4 linked regions of the Homo sapiens genome follow. The protein of the gene in region 2 interacts with the protein of the main gene of each other region in a pairwise test. Each region holds a gene or a part of one and is shown on either strand. Other genes may lie near its edges.

Evidence for each region. Proteins that work in one complex are often made in the same cells at the same time.
Region 1: the proteins of CCDC57 (region 2) and TSGA10IP interact in binary tests that used the Homo sapiens proteins (3 or more experiments, as listed by UniProt).
Region 3: the proteins of CCDC57 (region 2) and LZTS1 interact in binary tests that used the Homo sapiens proteins (3 or more experiments, as listed by UniProt).
Region 4: the proteins of CCDC57 (region 2) and RAB3IL1 interact in binary tests that used the Homo sapiens proteins (3 or more experiments, as listed by UniProt).

What each region holds. Positions count from the first base shown.
Region 1 is NC_000011.10:65,944,144-65,948,279, forward strand, and holds the start of TSGA10IP (testis-specific protein 10-interacting protein), read left to right. Parts: upstream 1-1,336; 5' UTR 1,337-1,532; coding exon 1,533-1,679; exon of another isoform or gene 1,680-1,723; intron 1,724-2,736; coding exon 2,737-2,873; intron 2,874-2,966; coding exon 2,967-3,685; intron 3,686-3,857; coding exon 3,858-4,005; intron 4,006-4,136.
Region 2 is NC_000017.11:82,167,843-82,171,342, reverse strand, and holds part of CCDC57 (coiled-coil domain-containing protein 57), read left to right. Parts: intron 1-3,500. UniProt on the Homo sapiens protein: Pleiotropic regulator of centriole duplication, mitosis, and ciliogenesis. Critical interface between centrosome and microtubule-mediated cellular processes. Centriole duplication protein required for recruitment of CEP63, CEP152, and PLK4 to the centrosome.
Region 3 is NC_000008.11:20,245,665-20,248,814, forward strand, and holds the end of LZTS1 (leucine zipper putative tumor suppressor 1), read right to left. Parts: 3' UTR 501-3,150; downstream 1-500. UniProt on the Homo sapiens protein: Involved in the regulation of cell growth. May stabilize the active CDC2-cyclin B1 complex and thereby contribute to the regulation of the cell cycle and the prevention of uncontrolled cell proliferation. May act as a tumor suppressor.
Region 4 is NC_000011.10:61,904,067-61,907,566, reverse strand, and holds part of RAB3IL1 (guanine nucleotide exchange factor for Rab-3A), read left to right. Parts: coding exon 1-2; intron 3-96; coding exon 97-174; intron 175-464; coding exon of another isoform or gene 465-559; intron 560-882; coding exon 883-1,101; intron 1,102-2,684; coding exon 2,685-2,813; intron 2,814-2,908; coding exon 2,909-3,021; intron 3,022-3,500. UniProt on the Homo sapiens protein: Guanine nucleotide exchange factor (GEF) which may activate RAB3A, a GTPase that regulates synaptic vesicle exocytosis. Promotes the exchange of GDP to GTP, converting inactive GDP-bound Rab proteins into their active GTP-bound form.

The DNA.
Region 1 (4,136 bases), on a different chromosome or scaffold from region 2:
TTGCACCCAAGCGCTTCCTCTATGCTCTTAGCCATGATGCTCTGCTGCCTCAAAAGAACGGCCAGCTAGTGTTAGTAATAATAACATTTACCGATGTCATCGTTTGGGGTTTCATGTAGTCCTTGCAACAAACCTATGAGCTGGGCCCGTGATTCCAGTTTTGCAGAGTGGGGAGTTGGTCACAGAGCTAGTGAGACCAGGCCTCCAGCCCAGTTGGTCCGTCTCCAGGGCCTCAGCTCAGCACCACATCCCTGTACTGCAAGCCTCAGTGGTCAGCACCAGGCGTCCCATGGGGACTTAAGATTCCAAGGCTTTTGAGCACTGCTAGAAGTTTGGGGTAAGATCTTTTACTTTTTTTATATTAAAAAAATATATTTTTTTGAGATGGAGTCTCACTCTTTCGCCCAGGCTGGAGTACACTGGTGTGGCCTCGGCTCACTGCAACCTCCACCTCCCGGGTTCAAGAGAACCCGGAGAGGGAGAGCCTCAGCCTCCCGAGTAGCTGGGATTACAGGTGCCCACCACCATGCCCGGCTAATTTTTGTATTTTTAGTAGAGATAGAGTTTCAATCCAGGTGGGAGATGGGGTTTCACCATGTTGGCCAGGCTGGTCTCCAACTCCTGACCTCAGGCAATCCGCCCACCTCGGCCTCCCAAAGTGCTGGAATTACAGCCACTGCCCGGCCTGGGGTAAGCTTTCAATGTTGTAACTCCCTCCAGAACCTCATGGCCTATGAAGATGGCCAGGTGGGCCTGGGCCCAGGCTCTGAATGGCCTGCTGCCTCTCTCCTGGACACAGCATTCAACTTCCTGGCTGGGGCTGGGAGTGCAAAGATTTGTTTATTTGTTTCTTTTTTATTGAGACAGAGTCTCACTCTGTCGCCCTGGCTGGAGTGCAGTGGTGCAATCTGGGGTCGATGCAGCCTCTGCCTCCCGGGTTCAAGTGATTCTCGTGCCTCAGCCTGAGTAGCTGGGATTACAGGCATGCGCCACCAGGCCTGGCTAATCTTTTTTGCATTTTTGGTAGAGATGGGGTTTTGCCATTTTGGCCAGGCTGGTCTTGAACTCTTGACCTCCAGTGATCCACCTGCCTCAGCCCCCCAAAGTGCTGGGATTACAGGTGTGAGCCACCACTCCCAGCCTGGGAGTGCAAGGATTTAAATAAAATCTTGTGAAAGTTCAGTTTGGCTCCTTCAGGGACTCGGCCAGGCCGGGGGGCAGCACAGGAGACAGGCTGACTCCCCTGTACAGATGGATGGGGAAACACAGGCAGAGTAGGGACAGGGGACTTACACCAGGTCACACGGGGAGCCTGTGGATGAGGCAGAGGCAGGACTTGGGCCTGGGTCTCTGCGCTAAATGACTCCTGGGCATCCTGCTGAACTCTCTCCCAGAAGGAGATTGGCCTCACATACCCCACTGACCCCTTCCTAGCATGCTTTTTGCCAGACCCATTGAGACTGGCTGAGGACTGGTTGCCATAGAGATGGCCTGTTAGGCAGTTCTACGGTGCGGATGGGGGATGGGGCAGGATGGGGCAGGACACCGATATGCTAAATACCTACCAACAGTTGGTTAGGACCCCGTCGGTGCGACCAGGGCAGGACGTGCGGCTCCAGGCTCCAGGAACCAGAACGGGGCTGCTCAAGCTGCTGTCGACCGTCTCTCAGGACAAGCAGGTGAGGGAGGCCCAGTGAGGACACTTCCAGCTGCCTAGAGCCAGGTGGGTCAGGGAGGCCTGGGCTGGGGAGGCCCTTGAGAAGCCACAAGACCTGAGCTGAGGTCCAGATGAAACTCAGGGAGGCAGGAGTGGGACAGGGACCACAGGGAGGCCTAAGGGCCTTGGGAGAAGCCGAGGGATGACGCCCAGGAGTGACTCCCAGGGATGATGGGGCCATTCAGGGAACACTGCGGAAGGAGCAGGTTTCAGGAAAGATGAAGACCACCTTGATGAAGACCACCTTGGTTTCTGCCTTGGCTGTAGCAGGTCCAGGGCCCAGTGGGACATTTGGGAGTGCAGTCCAGGGCCCAGAGGTGGCCTAGCGCAATGGTGACAAATCTGGGCTCCACCACTTCCCAGCTGTGTGACCTCAGTTACTCAGCCTCTCTGAGCCTCAGCTTTCTCCTCCACATGATGGAGGTGATAGTGAGTACCGGCCTCCTAGGGTCCTTGGGAAGGTTACGTGTGTTTATGCATGAAAGTCCTGAGCACACAATAGGTGCTCAGCAGGTGGCAGCTGTTGCTATTTTAATATGCAGAACGGAGGTGGTGCTCGGTCGGGTTTTTTTGTTTGTTTGTTTTTTTGAGATGGAGTTTCACTCTTGTTGCCCAGGCTGGAGTGCAATGACACAATCTCGGCTCACTGCAGCCTCCAACTCCTAGGTTCAAGCGATTGTCCTGCCTCAGCCTCCCAAGTAGCTAGGATTACAGGCGCAGGCCACCACACTCGGCTAATTTTTTTTGTATTTTTAGTACAGATGGGGTTTCGCCATGTTGGCCAGGCTGGTCTCGAACTCCTGGCCTCAGGTGATCCGCCCCCCTTGGCCTCCCAAAGTGCTGGGGTTACAGGTGTGAGCACCACATCCAGCCCTGTTTGGTTGGTTTTTATGGTAACGAGGGCCCAGAGGGACCCAGCCAGGCCCAGCCAGGTGCACAGAGGGAGCACCCGGGTGAGGTGCAACACAGTCCAGGAGGCTGCTCAAGCTGGCTGCTCCTCCCCTACTGTCTCTGCCCAGGGCTGCCTGGGGAGTGGTGATGGTGTGCCAAATCAAGACCTGCAGCAGAGGTCTCAGAGCTCAAGGCAGACAGCAAAGAAGGACCGCAAGCCCAGGGGCCAGAGCAAGAAAGGACAGGGCTCTGAAGAGTCTGAAGAGTAAGCAGCAGTGGGATGGGTCAGGAGGCTGTTGGGGGTCAGGGCCCTCTGGGGGCTGGCGCCGACCCTGACCCCCACCCTTTCCTTCTTCAGTCACTTCCCGCTTCTTCCTCGGAAACCCTCCTTCCCCTTCCAGTGGGCCTGGGAGAGCATCGCCACAGATGTCCGGGCTGTGCTTCAGCCAAGCTCCCCAACCCCTGGCCACCAAGCCCTGCCCATGCCCTCCTCGTTCTCCCAGCGTCAGTCCAGGCGCAAGTCCACGGCCAACCTCCCAGAGGCCCATGGCTGCTGCTGGAAGACAGAGGCGCAAAACCTGAAGGCGAGACAGCAGCTGGGAGCCTGGGGCGGTGTCTCCATCCCTACTGGCAAAGGGGAGCTAGGATCAGAGCCCCCCAGTGGTCTCCAGCTGCCTGGGAGGAGGCCAGGATCAGGATCGGCGTCCGACAAGCAGGTCCAGCTGCAAAGCCTGGGTGCTGAGGAGGCCGAGAGGGGTCTGAGTTCTGGGGTGCTGCCCCAGCGCCCCAGGAGGGGGTCGATCTCAGAGGAGGAGCAATTTTCAGAGGCCACAGAGGAGGCTGAGGAGGGAGAGCACAGGACTCCCTGCAGAAGGAGGGCTGGTTGTCAGAGAAAGGGGCAGATTTCTGGAGAGGAAGCCTCCGATGAGGGAGAAGTGCAGGGCCAGAGCCAGGGGAGCAGCCCCAGCTTCAACAACCTCCGAAGGCGACAATGGAGGAAGACAAGGGCCAAGGAGCTGCAGGGGCCATGGGACCTGGAGAAGCTGCACAGGCAGCTACAGAGAGACCTGGACTGTGGTGAGCGTGGGGCTCAGAGCCTGGATTCCCCCGAAGCTACACCGCAGGGAACAGGGAGCAGTCAGGGAGGCAGGGGCTCAGGCAGGCTGGGCTGTGCTCTGGGTGCTGGGGGGCGTTGCCTGGTGGGCTGAGAGGGAGAGGGCAGCCCCTGACTTGGTCCCACTGTGGGCAGGCCCCCAAAAGCTGCCCTGGAAGACTTTGAGGGCTGCCTTCCAGGCCTCCAAGCGGAATGGAAAGGCCTATGCCTCGGGATACGATGAAACTTTCGTGTCTGCCAACCTCCCTAATCGCACCTTCCACAAACGACAGGAAGCCACCAGGTAAGAGGGAAGAGAAGGGAGTGGGAGCCCAGAATGAGAAGTAGAGATGGAGCCACTTCTCCAAGAGATGCTTAGGCATTTGAACTCTCATTCATTTCTTTATTTATCCATTCACCAAACTTTTGGATCAT
Region 2 (3,500 bases):
GTGAATGGAATTCCTGGAGCTACCTCCAGAGCCCACGTGCCCTGGCTCCTCACTGCAGTCAGCGCTCCCTGTTTTGGTGTGAATGGAATTCCTCGCGCTCCCTCCGGAGCCCACGTGCCCTGGCTCCTCACTGCAGTCAGCGCTCCCTGTTTTGGTGTGAATGGAATTCCTTGTGCTCCCTCCGGAGCCCACGTGCCCTGGCTCCTCACTGCAGTCAGCGCTCCCTGTTTTGGTGTGAATGGAATTCCTTGTGCTCCCTCCGGAGCCCACGTGCCCTGGCTGCTCACTGCAGTCAGCGCTCCCTGTTTTGGTGTGAATGGAATTCTGTGGCACCTGTGCTTCTGTCTGGCGTCTTCAGACCTACACTGTGTTTCACTTGATAATGCCAGATTCTTCTCCAAAGCATCCATCCACATCGTGCGAGGTAGCCGTGGTGCTGCATGCGCGCCAACACTTACGTGGTCAGCGGCTCCTTCTGTTCCCTCTAGTGGACACGTAGCACATCCTATTTTGGTTTAATTTGCAAATTCATGAGATTCGTGGGATTGAACATCTCTTCCTGTGTGCATTGGCGTATGATTGGCTAGGGCTGCCGTAACTCAACACCACAGCCTGAGTGGCTTAAACAACGGTTTTATTTTCTCACTTCTGGAGTCTGGATGTCAGAGATCAGGTTGCCGGCAGGGTGGGTTCCTCCTGAGGCCTCTCTGTGGCTTGCAGACGGCACCCTCTCCCCTGCGTGCTCATGTGGACTCTCCCCCTGCGTGCTCACGTGACTCCTCCCCCGCTGCATGCTCACTCCTGGTGTCTCTTCCTCTTTTTTTTTTTTTTTTTTGGGACAGAGTCTTGCTCTGTTGCCCAGGGTGGAGTGCAGTGGCATGATTTTGGCTCATTGCAGCCTCTGCCTCCCAAGTTCAAGCGATTCTCCTGCCTCAGCCTCCTGAGTAGCTGGGATTACAGGTGCATGCCACCACGCCCGGCTAATTTTTGTATTTTTAGTAGAGATGAGGTTTCACCACGTTGGTCAGGCTGGTCCCGAACTCCTGACCTCGTGATCTGCCTACCTGAGCCTCCCAAAGTGCTGGGATGACAGGCGTGAGACACCGCGCCCGACTCTTCCTCTTCTTGTAAGGACAACAGTCCAGGGCCCCAGCCTTAGGACCTCATGTAACCTTAGCTGCCTCCTCAGAGGCGCTGTCTCCAAATACAGTCATGTTCGGGGTGAGAGCTTCAACCCGTAAATTTTGGGGGGCAGAGCTCAGTCCATAGAATTGGCCTTTCGACAGCCCCTCTTTTGGAGCTCCAGGCCATGTCTTTTGCCCATTGTTTATTGGATCATCTGCCCTTTGTCATAGATTTTTTTAGGGTATTTTATGCTGAATATGAGCCTAGCGTTGGTTATATGTGTTGCAAATATCTTCTCCCAGTCTATGGCTTGCCTTTTATTCCTTCACTGGTGTCTTTGGTGAATGGAAGGTCTTAATTTCAAGACAAACTCATAGGCTAATCTATTCCATTGTGGTTAGTCCAACATCAAAAGGTTCATTCTAGCATTCTAGCTTTCTTTTTCATTATTCTAACTTCCTTTCCCAATAATGAGAAACCTGGCTCGCCCATTATCACTAACACAGTTACTTTGATCGAGTCCTCTTGGTGTAACCAATCCCCCATTGCTGCTGTGGCCCCTTCCCCTATTTGCAGGCCCCTCTCCTGCCTGGATGCCTCCCCAGCATCACCGAGCTTGACAGCCCAGCCTGGCTGCCTTCCACACAGATGCCTTCACCCTGCTGGAGCCACAGCCCCCCTTAGTGTAGGGGAGGCAGGCCCCATCTGCAGGCCTAAGGCAGGAAAAGAAAGGGAGGGGCCAGACAGGACACTCCACTGGCACAGATTGTCTCAAATAGGGGAGGTTTTTGCCGGGCGCAGTGGCTCACGCCTGTAATCCCAGCACTTTGGGAGGCCGAGGTGGGTGGATCACCTGAGGTCGGGAGTTTGAGACCAGCCTGGCCAACATGGTGAAACCCCGTCTCTACTAAAAATACAAAAAAATTAGCTGGGCGTGGTGGCAGGCACCTGTAATCCCAGCCACTTGGGAGGCTGAGGCAGGAGAATCACTTGAACCCAGGAGGCGGAGGTTGCAGTGAGCCGAGATTGCACCACTACACTCCAGCCTAGGTAACAGAGCGAGACTCCATCTCAAAAAAAATAAAGTAAAATAAAATAAGGGAGGTTTTATTTTTCTTTTCCAATGCTGATATTGTTTACTTCTTCTTGCATTATCGCCCCTAGCTAAACTCTCCGGTATGATGTTGATAATAGCTGTCTTTCTCCCTAATCCCAGAGGAAGAACTTTCAGCATTTCACTTTTTTAGGTTGAGTTTTTGCTGAAGGTTTTTTGTGGTGGGGGTAGTGGAGGGAGGTTAAGGAAGTTTCTTTCTATTCCTGTTTTAATATAGATCTTTATTTTTTAAATCACGATTCTTTGTTTTTGTTTCATATATTTTGTATCTTTGTTGTTAGATGTGTATACATTTAGGGTTTTTTTTTTTTAGGATAATTGACCCTTATATTGTTACGTAATCTTCCTCTTTGTCTGGCAACATTCTTTGTTCTGAAGTCTACCTTGTCTGATATTAATTAATCCACTCGGGCTTTCTTTTGATTAGCATTCGCGTGGTATAACTTTTTCATCCCTTTTTCTTTTTACCTACCTCTCTCTTTTATATTTGAAATGAATTTCTTGTTTTTTGAGACGGAGTCTCTGTTGCCCAGGCTGGAGTGCAGTGGCACAATCTCGGCTCACTGCAACCTCTGCCTCCTGGGTTCGAGCGATTCTCATGCCTCAGCCTCCAAAGTAGCTAGGGTTACAGGCATGTGCCACCATGCCCAGCTGGTGGCGTTTGTATTGTTAGTAGAGACAGGGTTTCACCATGTTGGCCAGGCTGGTCTCGAACTTCTGGCCTCAGGTGATCCACTTGCGCTGGCCTCCCAAAGTGCTGGAATTACAGGCGTGAGCCACTGCGCCCGGCCTAAAGACAAAAACTGTTGAAAGCACACAGAGAGAGCGATGCACAGCCCACAGGGGACAGTGACTGGAGCGGTAGTGGGTTCTCAGCAGCAGCTGTCATCAGATTTCTCCTCAGAAGGAAGTGGCATAATATTTTTCAAGTACTGAAAGCAAAAAACTGTCAACCCATAATTATACATTCAGTAAAAATATTCTTCAGGAATGAGAGTGAATAAAGACATTCTCAGATGAAGGAAAAGTTTGTCACCAGCAGACTGGATCTAAAAGAACTGATAAAGGAGGTACTTTAGACACAACAGAAGGAAGGAAACTAGGAATGTCAGGAGTGAAGGAAAACTAATGGCAAGGATGAATATGATAGACATTCTTTCACACTTAACTCTTAAAATTACGTTGACAGGCCGGGCGCCGTGGCTCATGCCTGTCATCCCAGCACTTTGGGAGGCCAAGGCAGGTGGATCACCTGAGGTCA
Region 3 (3,150 bases), on a different chromosome or scaffold from region 2:
GGCCCGGGATGGTAGGGAAGGTTGTCAAGGGGGCACCAGGTAGGCTGGAACCAAGAAGGCTGGACAGATGGCCATGATGGTGACTGCACCTGCCCCACCAGGGGGCCCTGGGGCAGTGGCAATTGTAGCCATGCTGGTCTTTTGCCAGGAGGCCATATGCAGTAGACCCAGGAGTTGGCTGGTGAGGTGAGCAGACGGTAGGGCATGCAGTTTGGGTGGGGAGGGGCTCTCTTTTGGAGAGGACGCTCTGACTCTACATGGACACCTGTCCCTGGGTCCCTTTTCCTCTCATTTCACAGATAAGGTCCCGGGGTAGGCGATGGGGGCAGGGGCCAGCTGAAGCCTGTCTGACCCCGGGGGCCCCTTTCCCACTGCCCTGTGCTGCCTTCCTCACCCCCTTCGCTGGTGGAAGGGACGTCATCTTTCCTGTTCCAAGGGGAGAAGTCCCAGGGAGCTGCCACACCGCAGCGAGGGGAGAGGAGGGCAGATACACGTGGCTCTAGAGGGCGTGAGAAATGGCATTCTTTATTCATAAATAAAAACATAAAATTGCCACAAATAGTTTACATGGCCAAAAAGTGACGTCAAAAATAAAATGAAGCTGTCAAAAGCAAACCAAACCAAACAAGAAACCACAAAGAGAAAAATAACTATGTACATCTTCCAGATGCTGGTCCGTCCCAGCCTGCCTCTGCTGGGGGCTCCAGCTCTGCCTGCAGGCGCAGCACAAAGGCCACCTTGCACAAGAGGTGGGTGAGCAGCCCCGCTGGCCCAGGGGTGCAGCCTCTGTCATGGCAGCACCCACCGCATGATGGCTTGAGGTCTGCAGGGAAATCCCTCTCCCCAAGCTGCTGCTCCTCCAGCCAGGCCTGGCTTAGTTTCGGGCAACTGTCTCACCTAAGAGATGGCCCAGGCTGGGGCCAGGCACAGGAGGCTCACTGAGTGCCTCTCTGGGGAAGAGATGCCCCCATATCCCAGTCCCATGTGAGCTCAGTGCTATAGGGGCTGTGTGTGCCTGGCAGGAGTTCACTGGGAGAGCTAGGAGGGAACCCCGTGACAGTCCAGTCGTTCCCAGGTCCAGGGGCAGAGTCCGATCCTTGGTGAGGTGATGCGGAGTGCTGCTCTCTCCTGCAGGCGTCCTTTGGGGACAGAGCAGGTTGGTCCATCCGAGTGGGTCAGTGGGTCGGCCAGCAGGCGTGCCCAGAGGGAAGGGCAGGAAGCCCACCCTGTCTGGGGCCTGGGGCCAGGCTCTGTGCTTGGAGGCTTCTGCTGTCCAGAGCCTCTTTCCAGAGAGGCAGAATCTGGCATGGTCCAAGAATAGTGAGGGCGCTTTTGGACAGGGCAGGAAAGAACACCCACAGGAAGGTGAGGTTGCAAGGTCGCAGGATACTTGCATTCTAGTGCCACGGTGGGCCACTCTGGGGCGGGGGCTGGTGGCAGCCCAGGGAAGACATCTGCCACCTTGGACGTAGGACAAGGCCTGGGGGGGACACATCTGGGCCGGCCTGGGACAGGGCCATGGAGATATGGAGAAGGCTGCACTCCTCTGTGTATGGAAGGTACCGGGACACCATGGCGGAGCACAGCCTCCGCCTCAGGGCCTTCCCCTGGGTGTGGCAGCCACTTCTTCTCAGGCAACGTCTGAGGCAGAGCACTGGACTCTGACTGCTCTTTCCTGGAGTTGGGGGGGGGTCTCCAGCCTGGGGAGGGGGAGCCAGCCCTTTCCTCTGTCTCCGTGGGGCAGTCTCACTGGGAGGAAAAACTCAAACAAGGCACGGCCTGGTGGAAATGAAGGAACTGAGGGCTGAGGCGCAAGGAATGGGGCATCTTTGACTTGGGTCTGGACTGTGCCCAATGGAGGGTACTGCCCTCAGGCAGGGAGGGACTTTTGGCTTGTAGATTCCAGGTTTAAGCCTAGCTTGGGACTAAGAGCAATGGTTTGAAATTCCAGAAAAGCTCCTCTGTCGTTTGAGGATGGCAGGATGGGCACCGTTTAACCTCAGGGACAGGAAGGTAGAGCCAGCCACAGAAAAGGTGACTCTGGCCTCAGCCCGCACTCAGGGAAGGGCTAGGACCCATGAGGGCGGGGGGCAAGGAGAGAAGCATCTCCCCACCCCTACCTCGGGGTCTCTAAGGGCCAGCGGTGAGCGAGGCAGAAATGGGGACTGGCCTTGGACTCGCAAGTTCCCAGACGCTCCCCTCCTCATCTCAGCAGGCAGCAGGCGCAGGCATGTGGGAAGGGATGCTGTCCTGAGAACAGCAGCTGTGGCTACAGTCAAAAATAGAACATGGAACAGCCTGCTAGGTCTGGCTTGCTTCTGAAAAGACAAGAAAGCAAAAAAGAAAAAGAAAGAAGAATAAAAGAAAAATCTGGCCAGGCACGGTGGCTCACATCTGCAATCTCAGCACTTTGGGAGGCCAAGGCAGGTGGATTGCTTGAGGCCACAAGTTTGAGACCAGCTTTGGCAACAAAACGAGACCCCGTCCCTACAAAAAAAATGAAAAGTTAGCCAGGCACGGTGGCGCGCACCTGTAGTCCCAGCTAGTTGGAAGGCTGAGGCAGGAGGATTGCTTGAGCCCAGGAGTATGAGGCTGCAGTGAGCTATGATCATGCCACTGCACTCCAGCCTGGGGGACAGAGCAAGACCCTGTCTCATAAAATTAAAAATAAAATCCCTGAACCAAACAACAGAGAAACTCCACCTTTTATCTCTCTCTACCACCGCCTCCCGCTCCGCACATCTGCAGAGAAACCCTGGACTCCCTGGGGCACTGCCCAAGCTCCTGAGAAAGGGAGCTGCTCTCTGGATCCTTTAGTCTGGGACAAATGGGGGTCTTGAGGTGGAGGGAGGATGGCTGGTGGCCAGGCTATTCACACTGCTGTGTGTATGCCTCTTTTTCGTCCTGCTTGGGGCTCTGGCTTCCTGGCGCTCTGAGGAGCCGTCCTGACCTCTAGAAACCCAGAACTCAGCCCTGAAGGTGCTAAGGGGGAAAGGTTTGCCGCTAAACCTGGCTGTAGGCAGAGGAGGAAAATGCCCAGATCACATATATGCCATCTTAGTGATATGGGCTCTTCTGGATCAAGCAAAAGCTTGATTCTGGGGAGGGAAAAACATTCCAGAGTAGCCGCCGGCCAACGTGAAGCAGGTA
Region 4 (3,500 bases), on a different chromosome or scaffold from region 2:
AGGTACACCGGCTGGGCGCGGGAACAACTTGGGGAATGGGTCATCTGGGCGTCCGTTGGCTCCTCACCACTCACGCAGGGACTGCCTTCTTCCTAGGAAGCTCACAAGATGGTTCGAGAAGCCAACATGAAGCAGGCGGCATCAGAAAAGCAGCTGAAGGAGGCTCGGGGCAAGGTGAGGCCCATCCCCGCCTGCCCAGGCCAGCCCAGGCACCCCCCCTGCCTCCCGGCTCAGCGAGCACTGAGCTTTGCTGCCCGAGTGGACGCTCACCTGGCCCGGTGGGGCCAGCAGGAATGGGTGAACCTAGGCCCAGGGAGGGAAGGGAAGGGTGGGGGTCTGAGATCACAGGGCCCAGTGTCCCGGGGCTCCATCAGTGATTCTGCTGCATGGCAGAGCCTTTTCTGGGATAGTGCTGGGGCTGGGAGGACCCTGTGATTATTGTACCTTCTTCCCTCTCCTCCCAGCCCCACTTTACAAAGCAGAAACCTCACTCAGTATGGCTGTCTGAGCCTGGGCAAGTCGCTTCCTCTCTCCAAGCCTGGTTGCCCATCTGCAAAATGTGAGGCCTGGGCCTTTCCTGGCTCCTGGGGGCGGTCCCAGAACTCTCATGGGAGGCCCAGCCAGCTCCCAGACACTTGTTCCTAACAGAATCCTGCTCACAGAGTGACCTTGGGCAGGCCATGTCGCCTCTGTGAGCCTCAGTTTCCCTATGTGTAAAACGAGTGTCTGGGTCTCTGCCTCGAAGGCTGTTCTGAGGGCGTCGGGTGGGACTAAGTGCCTGTCACTGCAGGGGTGCATTGTCCTGAGTTAGGCTGATAGGCGGTGGCAGCCAGGATGGCATCCAGTCTGGGTGAGGGTTGACAGCCATCCCATCCCATGCAGATCGACATGCTGCAGGCAGAGGTGACAGCCTTGAAGACGCTGGTCATCACGTCCACACCAGCCTCTCCCAACCGCGAGCTTCACCCCCAGCTGCTGAGCCCCACCAAGGCCGGGCCCCGAAAGGGCCACTCTCGCCACAAGAGCACCAGCAGCACCCTCTGCCCCGCCGTGTGTCCCGCTGCGGGACACACCCTCACCCCAGACAGAGAGGGCAAGGAGGTGAGGGTGGGAAGCGGGCTCTGGGCACGGGGAAGGGTGGCAGTGCCTGCGGTAGGCAGGGTCCGAGCCCAGTGAGGACCAGCCTGCCCCATGCTGTGTGACCTGGAGCCTGTCCTGCGCCTCTCTGGGATGTGAGGGCTGGGCAGGTCCTTTCTCTCCAACCTCCTGTGATCTGAGGCACTTGGCCTGCAGCCTCCAGGGTATACCATCTGGGGACCTGAGGCCCCCTCCCTGCCCCACTGACTCCAAGCAGTAGGTAGTGGTCTCTGCACCTGAGGCTGGCTTTGGCCCTGAGGATCTGGGGCCTCCACTGAGACACACACTTCCTTGGCCTTAAGAGGCCAAGCAGCAGCCACTGGGCCTCAGGGGAGAGGCTGCCTGGACCCCGTGTGGCCACAGCCTCGAGCCCCAGGACCACCTGGTGACAGCCCTGTGCTCAAGGGGTTTCTGGCACCCTCTGACTGTGGGGCTGAGACAAGCGTGGCCTTTGGAGAGGTGTCTCCGTCCCACCTCAGCTGGCCACACCAGTTGCTGGGCCCAGGCTGGGCTGACACTCATGGTCATGGGTCTGTAGGCAAATGAGGCCACCTGTCAGCACCTCAGCTTTCTCACCTGATAAATGGGGCCTCCCGGGGCTGCTGGAGGAACCAGAGACAGGGACATCAAGAGCTGAGTTCAAGGCTGCACCCAGGTAGTGCCTCAGAGGGCTGTGGTGCCTTCAGCTTCCTGGGTCCCTGGCGCCAGCCCACTCGACTCCATCCTGGCTTCCACCTCTGTCTCCAGGGCCTCCAGGGAAGACGAGCAGGCCCTCATCCACCTCCTGAGCTCTGAGCTTCTGAATGTACATTAACTTCTCCCCTTCCTCCTGTTCTGTCTCTGTGCACCTGTCTACCTGTCTGTCTGTCTGTCTGTCTGTCCATCCGGCCCAGCCCGGGCTGGCCCCGCTGCTCTCCCTGCTCCTCTGCGTGGTCCCCAGCAAGGCGGTTCACCTCACCTACGAGCCGGCCTGGCCGCTCCCACCTGGGGAGCCCCCAGCCCCTGCCTCCACTCCCTCTCCCTCCTTTTCCCGACAGGTAAATGGCTCCAAAGAGGGGCCTCCCACTTTGCCCCCTCCCAGCCTCCCTCATTCTGCATGTGGCCTGGAGCAGGCCAGCAGTCACCTCTGAGGTGTGGGCCCAGGGCAGCCTGTGTGTGTCCCCTCCTGTGTGCACGTGCTTGTGTGTGCTTGTGTACCTGCTGGTACCTGTGGCCTCCTGCTAGTTGCTCTTTGACTTTTCCTCCTCAAGGAGGCACTGAGGGTCTTCAGGACAAAGCCCTGCACCCCACTCTAAAATCCAGTAGCGCCAAGAAATTTAACACCGGCCTGGAAACAAAACTTTTAGTTCTAAATTCTTTGGTGCAAAGGGCAGAAGGGAGCTCTGCTGCTGCTGGACTTGGCTTCCCTGCACGGCTGCTGGGGATCGACCTGCTGGCTTGCTGGGCCTGCCCCACGTCCTCCCTCGCTCCCCTTCAGCTCAGCCTGCATCTTCTATGCTGGCCCCAGTACCCTGACCGCCCCCACCCTCGCTTGCCCTCCCCCACAGGTGGACACAATCCTGTTTGCAGAGTTCCAGGCCTGGAGGGAATCCCCCACCCTGGACAAGACCTGCCCCTTCCTGGAAAGGGTGTACCGAGAGGACGTGGGCCCCTGCCTGGACTTCACAATGCAGGAGGTGAGGCATGGCAGGGGCGGGGCCAGCTGGGGGACACACCCCTCCGCCAGGGCCCAGCCCCTTACCACCCTGCCTGCCTCCCTGGTCTGCCACAGCTCTCGGTGCTGGTACGGGCCGCCGTGGAGGACAACACGCTCACCATTGAGCCGGTGGCTTCGCAGACGCTGCCCACAGTGAAGGTGGCCGAGGTTGACTGTAGCAGCACCAAGTAAGCTGAGGGTCTTAGCTCCTTCCTGCCCATGTGGGAAAGCCCCGCCAAGCCGTGTGTTTACTGTGCCGAGGGGTGGTCAGGATGCAGCAGCGCCGACAGGACAGGGACAGTTGCTGCCCCCACAGGGCAAGGAGGCAGTTTGGCAGGTTTCCTGTGGACCCCCAGGCTTTCCAGAGAGGCCGGGAGCTAGGGTCTGCCTCTTCCTGACTGGTCTGCTCTGTGCCCTCCCCTTCTTTTCTTGAACCATGATTATCAGTTGCTGGCTGTGCCCCTGCCAATAAATAACGACGCAGTAGCCCTGGCATTTGTCCTCCAGCTACTCACCTGGCATTGAGCAGGGGAGCAGCAGAACAAAATAGCCAGGGTGGAGCAAGGGGCAGAAATTGGGGAGGATTTCACCTTGGCAGCCAAGAGCCTGGCTGGGGATGGCTGGTGCCCTGGTGGGAGGCTCATCACGGAGAGGGAGCATTTGAGCC